2 separate regions of the Homo sapiens genome follow, and region 2 is linked to region 1. The links come from fine-mapping of genetic effects on gene expression. A gene starts in region 1. The other region holds a variant in brackets. All regions are shown on one strand. Distances are between the middles of the regions.

Region 1 (8,156 bases):
CAAAAGGGACTGGTGGGGACTGTGGCTGAACAAGAGCACTTCTGTCTGAAGACATTCAAATTCAAATTTCAAATTCTTTGCAGTCTAAGCTATACACAGCCACAGGACACCAGGTGCAAACCCATGTGCACTAATGACCAGCTGAATGTAACCTAGAGGTTATTTCTGCAGCACTGTATCACTTGATTGGCCCCAGAAAATTAAACAGCCTTCAAAAATTTTTTTTTTGGAAATTAAAAAACCTGGCCGGGCGCAGTGGCTCATGCCTATAATCCCAACACTTTGGGAGGCCGAGGTGAGTGGATCACCTGAGGTCAGCGGTTCGAGACCAGCCTGACCAACATGGCAAAACCCCATCTCTACTAAAAATACAAAATTAGCCGGGCATGGTGGCACATGCCTGTAATCCCAGCTACTTGGGAAGCTGAGGCAGGAGAATCGCTTGAATCCAGGAGGCGGAGGTTGCAGTGAGCTGAGACTGCACCACTGCACTCCAGCCTGGGCAACAAGAGCGAAACTCCGTCTCAAAACAACAACAACAACAAAAAAACTATATCCTGATTATGGTGGTAGATACACAAATGTATACATGTGCTGAAATTCATCAGCTGTACAACAAAAGAAGTCAATTTTTCTGTATAAAGGTTTTTAATCAAATAATTAATATAAAATCTTTTCTCCCATCACTAGCCAACCGGTCCATCTGCAAGTATTCAAAGCCTCTACAGCACGTCAAACAGAAATAAAATGTGAGCTACATATGTAATTTTAAATTTTCTAGTAGCCACATGAAAAAAATTAAACACAACAGGAGAAAGTATTTTAATAATACACATTTCAACCCAATGCTGAAAATTTATAATTTCAACATGTAAGAAATATAAAATTATTAGCTATTTAATTTTTTTAAACTAGGTCTTTGAAATTTAGCATAGGTATCTGATGCTTACAGCACATCCCAATTCAGACTTGTCACATTTCAGGGGCTCAGTAACCACATGGCCACCATATTGGAGAGCATACCTGTCGACTCACACTTTCTAGGTGTTATAAATGACGGTGGGATGACTTCAGTTGGCACTGGTAGCTGTAGTAGAACAGAACCAACTCACATGTCTCTGCAAATATCTCCTGGATCCTACCTTGACCTTCATCCCTGAGCACAAGTTCTCCAAAGTCAATATAGTCATCCTCCTTATGATCAAGGATGACCGTACTGAGCTCTTTCCACGTGCCAGGCACTGCTCTAAGCACTTTTATGTATGAATTCACTTAAGCCTCACAGCAACCTGTGAGATAGGTACTGATTATCCCTACTGTACAGATAATGAAGCTATGCATGGAGAGGTTAAATAAATAATCTACCCAAAAGCATATCACTCATCCCTGGTGCAACAGGGATTTGAACCCAAGCACTCTGGCTCCAGAGCCTGTCACTTTTAACAACTACTTTTAATAACTACATTTTAAAAAGGCTGAGAGTAAAGTATTTGGTAAATATTAAGTTTTTGTTTCTTGGGAGAAAAGAGCCACTACCTTTGGTGTTTCCAAGCCTCTTTTTAGGGCCCTAAGGTTCCCAAGATGCTTTTTCAGTGTGTAAATTCTTCCACTTAGGATTCTAAGATCTCAAGAAAGAAAGTGAGAAACTGACCCTTTTTTCTATATTAAGATCCCACCCAAAGAATAATCAAGTAGAAGCCATAACAAATAGACATGGTTCTTTGACAATCTCTTCACTTTAGGAAACGAAGGCACTCCTTACCCTGCGAGTGGGCAGGAAAGGGTGGCTCTTCATTGAAGGAGACCCATTCTGACTGGTGGGTGGCAATCACATGGTCCAAAGTCGTCATGCTAAAAAGGCACTGGTCATCTTCACACTGCTGACCTCAGGTGAACCCCAGAATACTGTCTGGGGTGGGCTGGAGTAGGGGTATGGTAGTACGGTAGACTTGGGTCCAGGGTCTGTTCTAGGTGTCTTGCCAAGGGCAGTACTCAGAATGTAGACAGATCAGCCTCTCTTGCCGTTGGTTAATCTGCCAGGCAGAAATCTGTTTAACAAACAAACAAACAAAAAATTAAAAAGGATAACCATCACATTACACTGAATCCACATAGGTCTAGGGCTTTTAGCGCTGCCCACAAGAAGGCTTGGGGTGGTTTCCAACTTGCCTTACTTCACTCTGTTCCTGTCATGCCCTCACCTTTTATACTGAAATGTCTGTCTTTAGCATCAAGGTTTCTAGATAAGCCTTCATATCACACTTGCAAATAATTACACAAATTTCAGCAATTAGATTCTCTAATTTCCCTAATTATTGTATTTTAGAAATATTGTCATCTATAATACTATCATTGCTAAACAAATATTAAAACTTTTCAAAATGCTTTCACTTTCTCTTACTAGCTGGCAAAATAAAAGCATGTTCTTTTCTATTAAATTAGTCCAGTTTCTTGCCTTAGGCAGGTAACTCTTTATAAACCTGATTTAAATCTCTGGCAGAAACCCAACAATCTCCAGATGGTATCTCCAAGCATGGTTTATCAATCAAGAAAAATAGAAATGAAGTGATCTTGTTCATTTGGAGTAAGAGGATAGGGAACATCTGTGGTAGTGAAAAATGTGAGTTAGAGTAACATTTTCAATCTAGGCCTATTTAAATTAGTTACAATGGTCTAGCCTTTGCTCACACTGCAATTATGTTCTAGGAATACAGAAAGATTCTTAATTGACATAATTTTGTTCATGGTATTAATATCTTTTTACAACCTGAACCTAGCTCTTGATCTAATAATGATTTATAATGAATTAATAAAATCTGAATTTATCTAAAATTAATGTGCTTCCATAGAAGAGCTACTATATACCTTGAACAATATCAGTTCTTATTAACTAAATATACACAATATTCAGATAGTTTCTAGAACAACTTAACTCACAGTCTTCCAATTGCTGCACAATGAAAAGTTTAGGAAATTTTACTACAGGTTATCATCTGCAGTAAATAATCTCTAGGTGGGAAAATCGGTAAAAACATGAACAGCTTTTGCTTTTTTGGTGTTTAAAACAGTTTTGGCATATGATGCTTCCTAAAAACAACTAATGTTTATATAGAATTTATAATTTTCAGAAACACATTTTCATACCATACTTCACTTGATTCAGTAGCCATTTTGATGAGTAGGACTCATAGTACTCTAATTCTTCTATGGATAAAGAAATTTGGGCTGAGAAAAATTAAGTGACTTACCTAATACTTTTAGTGCTTCCAGGCCCTTTTGGTAAAATGCTTCCTCCAGGCTAAGTGGAAGAGTTTACAAATCTCAGCACAGTGGCTGACTTTTCTTCATAATAAGATCTCACCCAAAGAATAATCAAGTAAAAGCCATAACAAGCAGGTGTGTTTGAAGCACCACACTAAGTGATAGATCCAACCCTTGAGCCCAGGTCTTCTGCAGCCAAAACACTCTAACCCTGGTGTCACAGCCGCAAAGAAGTACAACAGAATACAGTACATATAGACTATCACCCAACTTAAGTACTTTACAAATATCAATTACAATGGAACTGTAATGAAATGTCCGGGAAACTCCCCATGTGAAAGTTTGCCAGCACACCCCAAGCTGTATAAAGGATGGGAAGCCCAGAAGCCTCTTCTCCAAGTCCCTCTCCTAGGATCCTTGCCAACCACAAGGCCAGACATAGGCAAACAGCCTGGAGAGAGCAGGTCTCCCAAACCAGATCTTACCAGAGAGCAGTGCAGGGTCCACAAGCACAAAGAGCTGATTCCCACTGGCTTCTGCCTTTGACGACTTTCTCAAGCCCTGTCAAATGTGTGTCACTCAATGTGGTAATGGCTGCGGGCCAAGATAAGGCAGTAAAATTGAAGAGTCAGATTCCTCCTCTTTCAACGACAGCAGCATGTAAACCAGCCCCACAGCACCCGTCAAAAAAAAAAAAAAAAAAACCCACAATACAAGTCCCTATGCTGACACATGCAGTGTCATCACTCAATGGGGAAAACATCCTGCCAATCCTGCAATGATGAACCCAGCAAAAGTCATGGATAAGTGGGGTAGGGAAGAGAACAGGGGACGAAGGTGAAGGTAAGAGGAAAATATTTAAAAATTTTAAACTGAAAGGTTTTAAAGATCAACAACTTCAGGTGTTATGAGAAAACTGAGGCCCAAGGAAATCAGGCACACGAATAGAGATTGTGATCACAGGCCCAGGAGTTAGGTTGTTCGGATTTGAGTCCTATACAGTCTTGGAGTCCTATACAGTCGTGGACTCATAACTCAACCTCTTTAAGCTTCAGTTCAACCTTGTACAGAAAGAATAATAAAACTCACTCCATAATTCCGAGGATTAAACAAGATAATGTACGCCAAGTACTAAGGACTGGATGTAATAAACCCTCTGTAACGATGACAATGAAAACAGCAGGTGACCTTACAGAGGGCTTACTGTGCCCCAGGCTCCATTCCAAACCAATGTTAGCCATCGCCAGCACTGCTGCTATTGTTAAATGACTCGCCCAACGTTGCGTAACTTGTTCGTAGAAGTCTTGGGACTGGAATGCAGATTTCATGAAACCACTGCATTTCTGTCATTTGCAGAATCTGGTTTCAGTCATTGTTCAAAATGCTAAGTAGAGTCATGTGCTCAGCTACAGTGCCCAGAAGGCAGATTCTAAATCCTCTTCATTATAGATATAGGTGCATTCTGGCCAAAGTACCAAGACCATTCCTCAGAACGTATGAACGAAAAAAGAGCCCCAAAACTTTATCTATCCTTCCTTCACTTGTCCCAGACCAGACATGGGCTGGTGACAGACAATGAGTGGTCCCAATGAAGACTGGTGGAACAAATTGATCACATGGAACCCCCCATCATATTCCATACCATAAATCCATAAAATGGATTTTAGGTATTTGCCATGGAAGAGCCACACCAATAAGCCATAAGAAATCAGACCTTGAAAAGTGCTGTGCTAAGCAGCTGGAAACCCACAGAAGAACCCAATAATTGTGAGGTTAAGTTCATACTGGAATTAGTTGCTTGGTAAAAACCTCACCCCATTTTTAGAATGTGAATCATAAAATGAGGTTTAGAATCACCACAAATGAGTGGTGACTCAGTATCAGCAGGAGGATTGACCAACAGATGCTAAAAGTTTCATTGAAGTCTTGGAGTTGCCATTTCAGAGAGCTACTTCTTTCTCAGCATTATACAAAAATTTGTAGAAGGGAGAATGCAATTGTCTGATAAGATGGGGGTCATAGAAGTAGTTTTGTCTTATGACAGTCCTCTAATTGCCACAGTTTAGCCGTAGGGAGATCTCTGAGAGTTGGAACCATATGGGACTGGGTGGGTTTCTGAGATGTGAAGGATGTCCTTGATTCTGGACCAACAGAGGGACAAGTGAGGGAAGCCTCTGGACAGGGGATCACCGCAAGTGACAGTAAAAATCAGAAGCAGACCTTAACAAGGTGTGTTTCTGTCTGAACAAGCCTCTGTCTGATGAGAGCAGAGGTATCTACTGGGGGAATATGGAGTGAAGGGATTGATTGACCATAAAAGCTAAGGAGAGTTCAAGGGGAAATGAGAAGCTGTGGGAGGTTTAAAAGCAGAGAGTGACTCAAGAAGTGTGCTTAAGGGAGATAAGCCTTCCTCAGACAGTGCTGGACAGAAGCGTGGTGATGGAATTTTTCAGCCATCAGTACCTCCGGTGTGTCTCACAAAGTTGGGGGGCACAGTCATCAGGAACATGTACTGTTTCTGCCCATTCTAGGGCCTGAGGGTCAAGGGAGAACAAAACAGCATCTCTGCCCTCAAGCAGCTGTCAACTGCAGGGAGATACCACAGCAACCTAAAACAATAACCTCTGCTCTCTAACCTATTCTGGTGGTTAGTCACCAAAAGTAGGACAGCAGCAAGTAAGAGTGTTAAGAGACTTCTGAGAGCTTGAGCTATAGGTGGTCTTGAACTGTACCCTAAGCCGGAAAGGAGGGGTCTGAGCAAAAGAGCTGAGGGGCACAGGCACTCAGGAAGGGGGAGCAGGAATGGTATGTCTAGCCCACAGTGAGTTACACTCTGTTCATCTGAAGAGGGTGTCAAGCATCCTGGAAAAGGAGCTCTAAGTTTCAGAACGAGTTTGAGCTCTGGAGCTTACCCTCTCCAATCCCACTGCCAATGCCTTGGCTCAGCCCCTCATGATCTCTCACGCAGACAGTTGCAAGTCTCCTACCTGTCTCCCTGCCTTCAGTATCACCTGCTCAAACCTACTATCCAGCCTATTATGGTAGAGTTATCTTCCTAAAACCTGAAAATGGCTATGCTACAGCTCTGCTTACAGCTCCTCAAAGTCTCCTCACAGGATAAAATGAGGTATGAGAAATGAACAAAGGATTCCTGAGAGCAGGGGTTGCATGCTATACCCTCAGCATTGAGCATAGTGCCTGGCACAGGTTAGCAGCTCAATAAAAATTGTCGTATAAATGCAGGCACTTTGTGAATCTGGCCCTGATCCACCTCTCTAATCCCATGTGTCATTCTCTCCCCTTGTGAATCCTATATTCCTGATGAACTGAGTTATTTGAAAGACTGTGTTTTTTAATATACTTTGTCCTATTCGATCACTTGTTCATATATTAATACATTATTAAATACTATATTTGGGATACATTTTCCCTACATTTTTATTTCATGAGCTCCTGCTCACCTTCAAGTCTTAGCTCAATCATTATCTCAGGCTTGGCTCAACAAGCATTTATGCCAAGTGGCAATCACTGAATGCAAAGATAAAGAACACAAATTATTTTGCCATAAAACCTTTATAATATGCATGCTCATTGTCTTTTGCCTACTCAACACCCAAAACTCCTTTCTTTTTCGAGAAAAAAAATATTATCTTTACATCCCTCCTGGCAATTAATCCAGGCTTTGTCAACGGCTGCTAGAATATTGAGGGAATGCTAAAAGGTACAAGGGCCTTGAATACATGCAAGAGTGGCATGCGAACAATGGAAACTTGACCCAAGCCCAGAAGCAGGCACAACTCAATTCCGTGGCAATGGTGACAAGTGCAGCATCCTAACCAGACCCATGGTGTGACTCTGTCTCTGTTTACTGCCGGCTAGGTCCTATGGCTCCTACCTATTTTCCAAGCCACGTTTGAGAGTCATCTGGCAATCCAATGAGCTCTTTCATACCCTTGAATAGACTTCTTTCCTGCTTGTATTAGCCAAAATTAATTTCTGTTGCTTGCAACCAAAAACTCTGATCTATGGTGGTACTCCTCAACTTCCAATAAGTAAAGTACCACACTTCCCACTTGCCCTTTATCCCCCATATCTTCTGAATGCTGATACTATCTTAACTTACACTCATTTACCAAATTATAATGAAATTATTTGCTAATGTCGCTATATGAGGAAAGGGACTTGATCTTTTGCTTATTGATGTCTTTAACTCTTAGAATAGGGTATGGCTTTTAGTAAATGCTTGTTGGGTAACCAGCTGAATGAATGAATTTGCCTTAACATACAGTAGGTAGCCTCTTCAGCTCTTTTGAGACGTTAATAAATGTTTTAGGAAGGTTAATTTAAACACTATGTGTAAAACAGCTTCGGAGAAAATCTAGATATAGGGAAATATGTTCATTCCCCTTTCTCTTTGATCTAAAATTATATCATCCAATTCCAATACAGCAGACACTAGACATAGGGACTACTGATATGTGGTTAATCTGAATGAGTTGTTCCTTAAGTGTAAAATATACACCAGACTTTAAAGAGTATAAAAAGGTGTAAAATATCTAATAATTTTATACTGCTTTCATGTTAAAATGGTATCCTGGATGTATTAGCTTAAGTAAAACATACTGTTAAAATTAATTTCACCAGTTCCTTTCAACTTTTTTAAATGAAACTACTAAAATATTTAAAATCATATATAAGTAGCCCACACTATATTTCTTCCTTTTTTAACTGAGACAGGATCTCACTCTTGCTCATGCTGGAGTACAGGGCACTATCACAGCTCACTACAGCCTTGACCTCTGCAGGCCCATGTGATCCTCCCACCTCAGCCTCCTGAGTAGCTGGGTCTATAAGTGCACACCATCACACCCACCTAATTTTAAAAAATGTTTCCG
Region 2 (8,156 bases), 24 kb after region 1:
GCATAGGAGTGACACCTAGCCCAATTTGGGGTCAGTGAAGAATAACAGGGAAGGTAACAAGTGGTTGAAAGATGAATAGAAATTAGTTCTGTGAGGCAGGGGTCACTGGTGGAGAAAATGGACATTCCAAGCTGGCAGGATGGTATCTATAAGAACAAAGCATGACAATACAAAATGGTCAATAAGAGGGTACCATTGCACTCAGCCATGCTTAACCACTCACGTTAACATGCAAAACTGTTGTTTGCTATCAAAGGGTGTATGCAACCTCCCTGATTCCTACGTCCACCCCCAAACCTGCCCCTCCCTAACCTCACACCTGAACATCACCCATCACTGACCCCAACCCCTGCAGTGTGTGTCACAGACAGGGTGGGATCTGGACATGAATAAGGCATGATGTGAAGGGAGGACGAGAGGCTCAGAAATGAGGTTCATGTTCAAGGATGGCCTGAGATTCAGCATTAATGTTAGAAATAGGTCAGGGGGCAGGGATGGGATGAAGCACTGAGACGGTATGAGGATGTCTTTTTGTTACCCGACTTGGAATGTGAAGAGCAATAGTTTTTTCAAGGCCTCCACTCAAAACAGCTGCATTAAAAATGTATTATGCCCCTACTGAGTCCAGAAGATGAATAAAAAGATATGTTTTCTGAACTATAGGTGATTTACTTTGACGAAGCAATGAGCCAGAAGGAGAAAAGTAAGACAGGAGGCTGGAGAGCTAGGAGTCAGGTCAGACAGGGCCCAGTAGGCCATGCCAAGAAGGCTGGGTTTTGTCATAAAGGCAATGGAGATCGATTAAACAATTTAAGCAGGGAAATAACATGACCCAATTTGTTTTTTAGAAAAAGGTTATTCTGGAAGCAATGAGAGAGATCAACCAGAGAGTGAAAAGACCAGCTAGTAATTAGAGTGATTAGGCATCGCAAGATGGGGGATAGAGAGGAAAGGTGTTTTTACAGCCATTTAGGATGTAATGTTATCAAGATATGGGGATAGAATCTTTTTTGGACTCATTGAGATTGTGGAAGTAAAGATGCAGTAGGTGGATGAAAAAAACCTTTGGAAAACTGGATCAATTTTTGTACCATTTGCCAAGATAAGGACTTCAAGAGGAAGAATGGTTGGGACATAAAAGGGAGGTGATGAGCTTAGCATTAGGCCCAGTGATTTGATGGGCCCGTGGGACAACCACATTGAGATGTTGTCTTTAGGACCTGTTAAATAGGCAGATTTAGAGCTCAGAAGAAGAGAGATGAGTGCTAAAAACACAGACTGAGAGGCCACTGGAAGCTGGGGATTTGGACTGGGTAACTCAGAATAATAAGAGGAAAAACAAGAACCAAGGCTGGAACCCTGGGGAAGGTCATTTGTGTTTAGCACAGGATAAACAGCCACTTGGAAGAAGTTCCTCATAAATGTGTTATCTTGTCACCATCATGAGGGCCTGGATTATCTTAGAACTCAGCAGAAGATCAGGTGCTATGATTTGGACATGCTTTGTTTGGCCCTGCCAAGTCTCCTGTTGTAGTTTGATCCCCAGTGTTGGTGGTGGGGCTCAGTAAGAGGTGTTTGGATGGTGAGGCCAGATCCCTATGAATGGCTTGGTACCATTCTCACAGGAGTGAGTGAGTTCTCACTCAGTTCCTGCGAGAACTGAAGTTGAAAAGAGCCTGGCACCTCCTCCTTTTTCTCTTGTTTCTGCTGTCTTGCTATGTGATCTCTGCACACCTGGGTCCCCTTTACCTTCCATCCTGAGTGGAACCAACCTGAAGCCCTCACCAGAAGCAGATGTTGGCGCCATGCTTCTTGTACAACCCGCAGAACTATGAGCCAAATAAACCTCTTTTCTTTATAAATTACCCAGTCTTGGGTGTTCCTTAACAGCAACACAAACACACTGAGACACCAGGTAAAAGAGATATTTGTGTTCATTCCAACTAGTCAATACTATGATAATACAGAATATTAAGGGAGCTCTGAGTGTGCTTGAGAAAGGAGAGAATAGGAGGCATTAGGACAGAGGTCACAGATTTCTGGATGCCCAGTTTTCCAGCATTTGAAGAAGTGAAACCATCTTTCTGCAGCATGGGCTTCAGTAAGTGCACGGGTTTCTGTGGGTCCACCTAGTATTTCTAGACTTCCAGGCCAGGCACGGTGGCTCACGCCTGTAATCGCAGCACTTTGGGAGGCTGAGGCGGGCAGATCACGAGGTCAGGAGTTCAAGACTAGCCTGGCCAACATGGTGAAACCCCGTCTCTACTAAAGATACAAAAAAAATTAGCTGGGTGTGGAGGTATGCACCTGTAATCCCAGCTACTCAAGAGGCTGAGGTAGGAAAATCGCTTGAACCCTGGAGGCGGAGGTTGCAGTGAGCCAAGATGGCACCACCGCACTCCAGCCTGGGAGACAGGGCAAGACTCTGTCTCAAAAAAAAAAAAAGATTTCTAGATTTCCAGCTTTCCAGCACTTGAAAAAGTGAAACTATCTTCATCTTCCTGCAACATGACCTTCTATAGGTATACCTAAGGTGCGCTGCACACTTTTCTTGATGTTATCACTACGTACACAAGTCACCAACCAGGAAGAGTTCTCAAGTTAGGGCCAAGACCAAGATGTACAACTCAGACTTGAAGGCCTCTCCTTGAAACTGGTTCTTAGCCTTTAAACAAAAAATTATAGCTCTCTGAATCTCTTTGAGTTATAATTTAAGCCAGAGACTCTCATCTCTGGAAAAATACACATACATGCAACATTAATTATAATTTAAGGCACTTCACAGACACACTTCTCAAAGTCCTAGGGATCTGTGGACTCCCTGTTAAAAACTGTCACCCTAGAACAACTTATCTGGCTCAAGTTGCTTTCGGGCCTTTCAAAACAAAACAAAATTATTCCAGAGGAGCCCAGCAGAAGGAAGCCAGGCACTGTGGCTTCTACTGACCCTGAACTGATAATTCCTTATTTCCGTTTTCAGCAAAGCGGAGGATACGTCCTTCCCTTTTCTGAGAATCCTTCCCCTCCCTCTTCCCCCAACAAAACAGACGCATGGGCATAAAACCAAAACAGCCTGGCCAAAGGCTAAAACACAGGCTGCTGCAGTGGCCTCATGGGGCAGCTGCACAGGGGCCCCTGGCTGATCATGATGTTATCCTTGTGAACCAGGCCTCTCACAAACAAGAAACCGACGCATCCCAAGTTTGTGTCTGCTGACTGAAGGC[T/A]GGGGCATGTGGGTGTCTCCAACTGCCAGGGACAGCCACAAGGAACCAGGACACACTGGGTGGGCTTGGCACAGTGCGAGAGTCGATGTCTGTTGACTGAGGCCTGGCTGCTTTGGTAGAGTGGAGTCTGAGGTTTTGATACATGAAATGCACTACTGACATCCCCTATGTTTAAAGTAAATTCTAAATGTGGAGAGCAGGTATGTTATGAAATGCCACAGCTTGCAGGACAAAAGAATTCTCACAGTATAAAATGTGAGCAAATGAGCACCTTTCAATGGTGACAACTCACTCATCCCCACACTCCTAGTTTATTTCCTTCTTTTATTTTTCCTAATCAGGCACGGTGGCTCATGCCTATAATCCCAGCACTTTGGGAGGCCAAGGCAGGCAGATCACTTGATGTCAGGAGTTTGAGACCAGCCTGGCCAACATGGTGAAACCCCATCTCTACTAAAAAGATAAAAATTAGCTGGGAGTGGTGGCGCACACCTAAAACCCCAGCTACTTGGGAGGCTGAGGCAAGAGAATCGCTTGAACACGGGAAGCTGAGGTTGCAGTGAGCCAAGATCGCGCCACTGTACTCCAGCCTGGATGACAAAGCAAGACACCATATCAAAAAAAAATATTTTTCTGATTTCTGTTTTTATTATAAACAGAATACACTCTCACTAAAAAAAAAAAAAATGGAAAATACAGAAAAGTATAATCACTGGAGTACTTCTACAATGATATGATTTTTAAAATTCCATCAGCATGCATTTCTTCAACTTCTCAGGGACACTTCCATTGTTTAAGGGTAAGGCATTCCTTATAGTGGGAGGACAGGCTGTCACCACAGACAATGGGACAGGATCCTTTGACCTTGTGACTTCCTGGGCTCTCATCTCAGTGGCTAAGAATTATGTATTCTATTGTTTTTTCCAAGTTGATAGAAATTTCCCACCATGTATGCCTATTCTCCTTACTTTCTCAATCTGAAAGACCAAAAGAAAAATTTAATCACTGGAAGCTCTTTCCTATTAATGTTTCTGCTTTGTTGTTTCTAAAGATTTTTTCTTTCAGTCTTCACATCACCCTCTCCCATTTAGAGACAGTTTCTCAAAAACCACAGTAGGGATTTAGAAACACACCACACTGTTACATACATTTGGTCCTGACACCACTAATAGCAGTATTTCTTTTGGTAGATGTCTCACTGACAGTAACTCTTGCAAAACAGAAAAGCTACAAATTCAAAGCATATAAACCATAAATGCAAATACAGCAGACATAATAATTAGAGAATGGAGTGACAAGACTTCAGAATGTGATTCTCCACATCTCTGGGTTCTTATTTAGCTTTGAGAGTGAGAGTTTTTTAGAAACAGATTCAGAATATTATTATTTGCTAAGTGAAATAAAATGGATTAGAGGAATTTTCCAACCAAGTGTAAAACTTGGATTTAAAATAGTAGAGAAGACTGAGCTTGGTGGCTCATGCCTGGAATCCCACCACTTTAAGAGGCTGAGGAGGAGGGAGGATCATTTGAGGTCAGGAGTTCGAGACCAGCTTAGCCAACAAAGTGAAACTCCATCTCCACTACCAACACAAAATTAGCTGGGCACGGTGGCTCACACCTGTAATCCCAGCTACTTGGGAGGCTTAGGCAGGAGAATCACTTGAATTCAGGAGGCAGAGATTGCAGTGAGCCAAGATCATGCCACTGTACTCCAGCCTGGACGACAGAGTGAACTCTGCCATCAAAAAAAAAAAAGTAGGGAAGATTGGTTAGTATCTTAGGGAAGAGTGAGAGAACCTTCTTACCTGGCTCATGGTGGCAAAGAGCAAACATGAGGTTATTATACGTAATACTAAAACACTGTCATCCAGTGGTATCTCTTTTGTTCTGTGTTTCAGTTTTCATATCTCTGAATGCTTGAGCATCTGCGATTCTTGTAGCAATTACCACATATAGAGGCCAGATCTGATCGCTGGATGTAATGTTTCAATTACAGAGAAAACGTAAGTCTCTGGCATATGTGTATAGTTACTATAGTATTTCCCTGACCTCTCTCTTTTATTATTTTTTTTAAAGAAGAAAAACAGTAGCAATATAAGTGGAATTAAAATTCGGATTTCAGCTTAGGGAAAATTCAAAGGGATTTAAACACATGTGACTGTCACCACTCCTCACTTTTAACAAATTTACATGAACGGTGAGAATCTTTCAAGACATAAAGTGGTGAACAGCTTCACAGCACGAATGTCGCACTTACTGAGCCCTCACACCTATGAGATGGGCATTTTTAACCACCAGTTCTCATCTCACAGGCAAAGAAACTGAGTCTCAGAGACTAAGTAACTTGCCCAAGGGCACAAAGATAGTAAGAGGTCAAATGGTATCCGACCCTAGTCTTAACTCAGGCACCTAACCATGGGATTATAGAGCTCAAATGATAAAACCACCCAAAGAAAATGCCAATGGGTCCATACCTCATTTTACACTGGCAAAGTGAAGAAAAGCACAAACTAGAAACCTCGAGCCAGCTTGAATTTCCCAGTGAAGCTGGCATGTCCCCTGATTCAACCCTAGGACCCCTTCTCCAGCTGTTAAATACCTTCATTCCTTCACAGCTTTAGATTCCATCTATAAGCTAGGGACCCCCCACACAGATGCTTCCAGCCTTGACTTCTCACCTGACTTCTCCTGGTGCCCACTGAGCATCTTCACTTCAACATCTAACAAGACTCTCACACTTAACGCATCCAGATTTGACCAGCGACTCTCCCTTCCCTGAAATGACTGCGGCAAGAACCCTTCCCATCCAAGATGATGGCACTCTACCCCTCCAGTCCCCCTCGCCCGAAACATCGAGTCATCCAACCTTGTCTTCTCGCTTCCTCTGACACAGTTTCTCTCATGTTCATTTTACAAAAAGGCAGTTTACATACATATTTCTCACATGATTCTTTAAAATGGCTAGTTTCCCTAGGACATTTTATAAGATTTCGTTTGAGCATAACTCACCGTGAGTACCTTAACTGAGGTAGTCACGTAAGCTTCGTCTAACACAGCACTGTGTAACCTACAAATCATGATGTTCACCTACCGCTTTATTTTTATGTGCTATTTGATAAACACTTACGTAACACTTCTCATCTCTCAGACATTGATGTCAAAGTGCTTTACTGTTCATTTAATTAAATTATCATATAATCCTCATAACCCTATGAAGTAGGTTCCCTTTACAGAGATAAGGAAACTGAGGCTCAGGGAGATTAAATAGCTTACCTGAAACCGCACAATTCAAACCCAGGCAGTCTGGCTCCAGAGTCTGTACTTGTAACCACTTCGCCCTGCTCCATCCACGAGATGTACTTTTTTGCCTCGTGAGTTGTTTTCCTATGAGTAGAAACATACATGCATAAATGAACCTGCACTCTTATCTGGCTTTCTTATAGCCAGGACCCACCTCTGCAAAGTGCCTGACCTGACTGGGTGCATATTCTCTACCCTCTTCACAGGAAAATGGCAACCAAATGACAGGAGATCACAGCCCCTGGGCCCAGGAGCACTGTGCTGTGACCAGCCAAGTCACCCAGACCGGAGTCTGATATGCGACAGCAAACAACTCTGACTCCTTGGGACTGCCTCCCCAAGGCCTGCTCAGGAATCGGGAACTTAAAATCAACCGGAAGCAGAGCATGTGCGCTCCAGGGTGCCTGAGTATGATGGATGGCACAGCTGGAGGAGCTGGCTGTGTTGCAGACAGCACAGCCCCGCCTATGCCAATTAGGTTGATGGGTGGTGACTGAGAAACATGCTGGATTTACTCAAATAGATCCTCACTCCCTAACTCACCAACTTTTTAGAGATCATAACAAAAAGAATAAGGATGAGATGGGAAAAAAAAAAAGAGAGAGAGAAAAAAGTGTGCTTTGACTGCCCTGCTGATACTGTGAACTGACCGTGCAAAAACAAAAGCAGTTTTCCTCCTACCAGGCATCTCCCAGGGTGTGGCCAGAGTGCACAGATAGCCCCTGTTAACTCTTTAGAGCACATTTCCTTTTGCTTCCAGATACCACAGTGACTCAGGGCATAGCTTCTAGATCTAAGCGATTAAGAGAGGTAGGTTTAAAGCCCAGCTCCATTACAACCTTTGACAAAGTACTTAGCTCCAGCCTCTGTCTCATGAAATGCTACTCCTCATGTAATGCTACTCCTTAGATGAGATGCTACTCCTCCTGACCTTACAGCGTTGAGGTGCAAATTAAGTAAAATAACATGGTATAACCACTCAGCAGTGGACGTAAAACTCAACGCATGATAGCTATTGATAGTGTTTTTGATAATTTCAGCAATGATAAAAGTTTTCCACCCTTCAACTGTTCAAAGTCTGAAGTAGAGGGAAATGTAGGGACACGGAATGATTTAGAAAAAAATGAATATTTTATGTTTGGCAAGGATGGGGAAAAACACAAAGTATTATTTTTGACAGCTCTGAGTTCACATAATAGACGACATTTAAACAACGTATAACTGGATACGTCTACCAAATATGGATCACCCCAGCCTTATCCACTTAACCATGGCATTATCATTATTCTCTTTTAAAAGCTTAAGACAAATGGGCCAGGCATGGTGGCTCACGCCTGTAATCCCAGAACTTTGGGAGGCTGAGGCAGGTGGGCTGCTTGAGGCCAGAAGTTCGAGACTAGCCAGGCCAACATGGCGAAACCCCGTCTCTACTGAAAACACAAAAATTAGCCAGGCATGGTGGCACACACCTGTAGTCCCAGCTACTGGGGAAGGAGAGACATGAGAATCGCTTGAACCCAGGAGGCAGAGGCTGCAGTGAACTGAGATCCTGCCACTGCACTCCAGCCTGGGTGACACAATGATACTCTGTCTCAAAAAAAAACAGAAACAAAAACCAAAAAAACTTAAG

What was found. PIP is the estimated chance that this variant, and not a neighbour inherited with it, causes the effect. A credible set is the group of variants that fine-mapping cannot tell apart.
Region 2: its variant is the best candidate, but not a certain one, in a credible set for the expression of STON2 in blood mononuclear cells (TOPMed, PIP 0.73).

What each region holds. Positions count from the first base shown.
Region 1 is chr14:81,396,533-81,404,688 of GRCh38, forward strand. It overlaps STON2 (stonin 2), which reads right to left and starts at 3,792. Exons shown (of 8, transcript NM_001394390.1): 1 at 3,747-3,792; 2 at 1,763-2,048. The coding sequence starts at 1,850.
Region 2 is chr14:81,420,603-81,428,758 of GRCh38, forward strand. It overlaps a transcript of STON2 not described here. Among named protein-coding and RNA genes, the nearest start is that of STON2, 24 kb to the left of the region's middle. RefSeq lists an enhancer at 6,874-7,378. The variant T/A (reference allele first, on the strand shown) is at 3,225.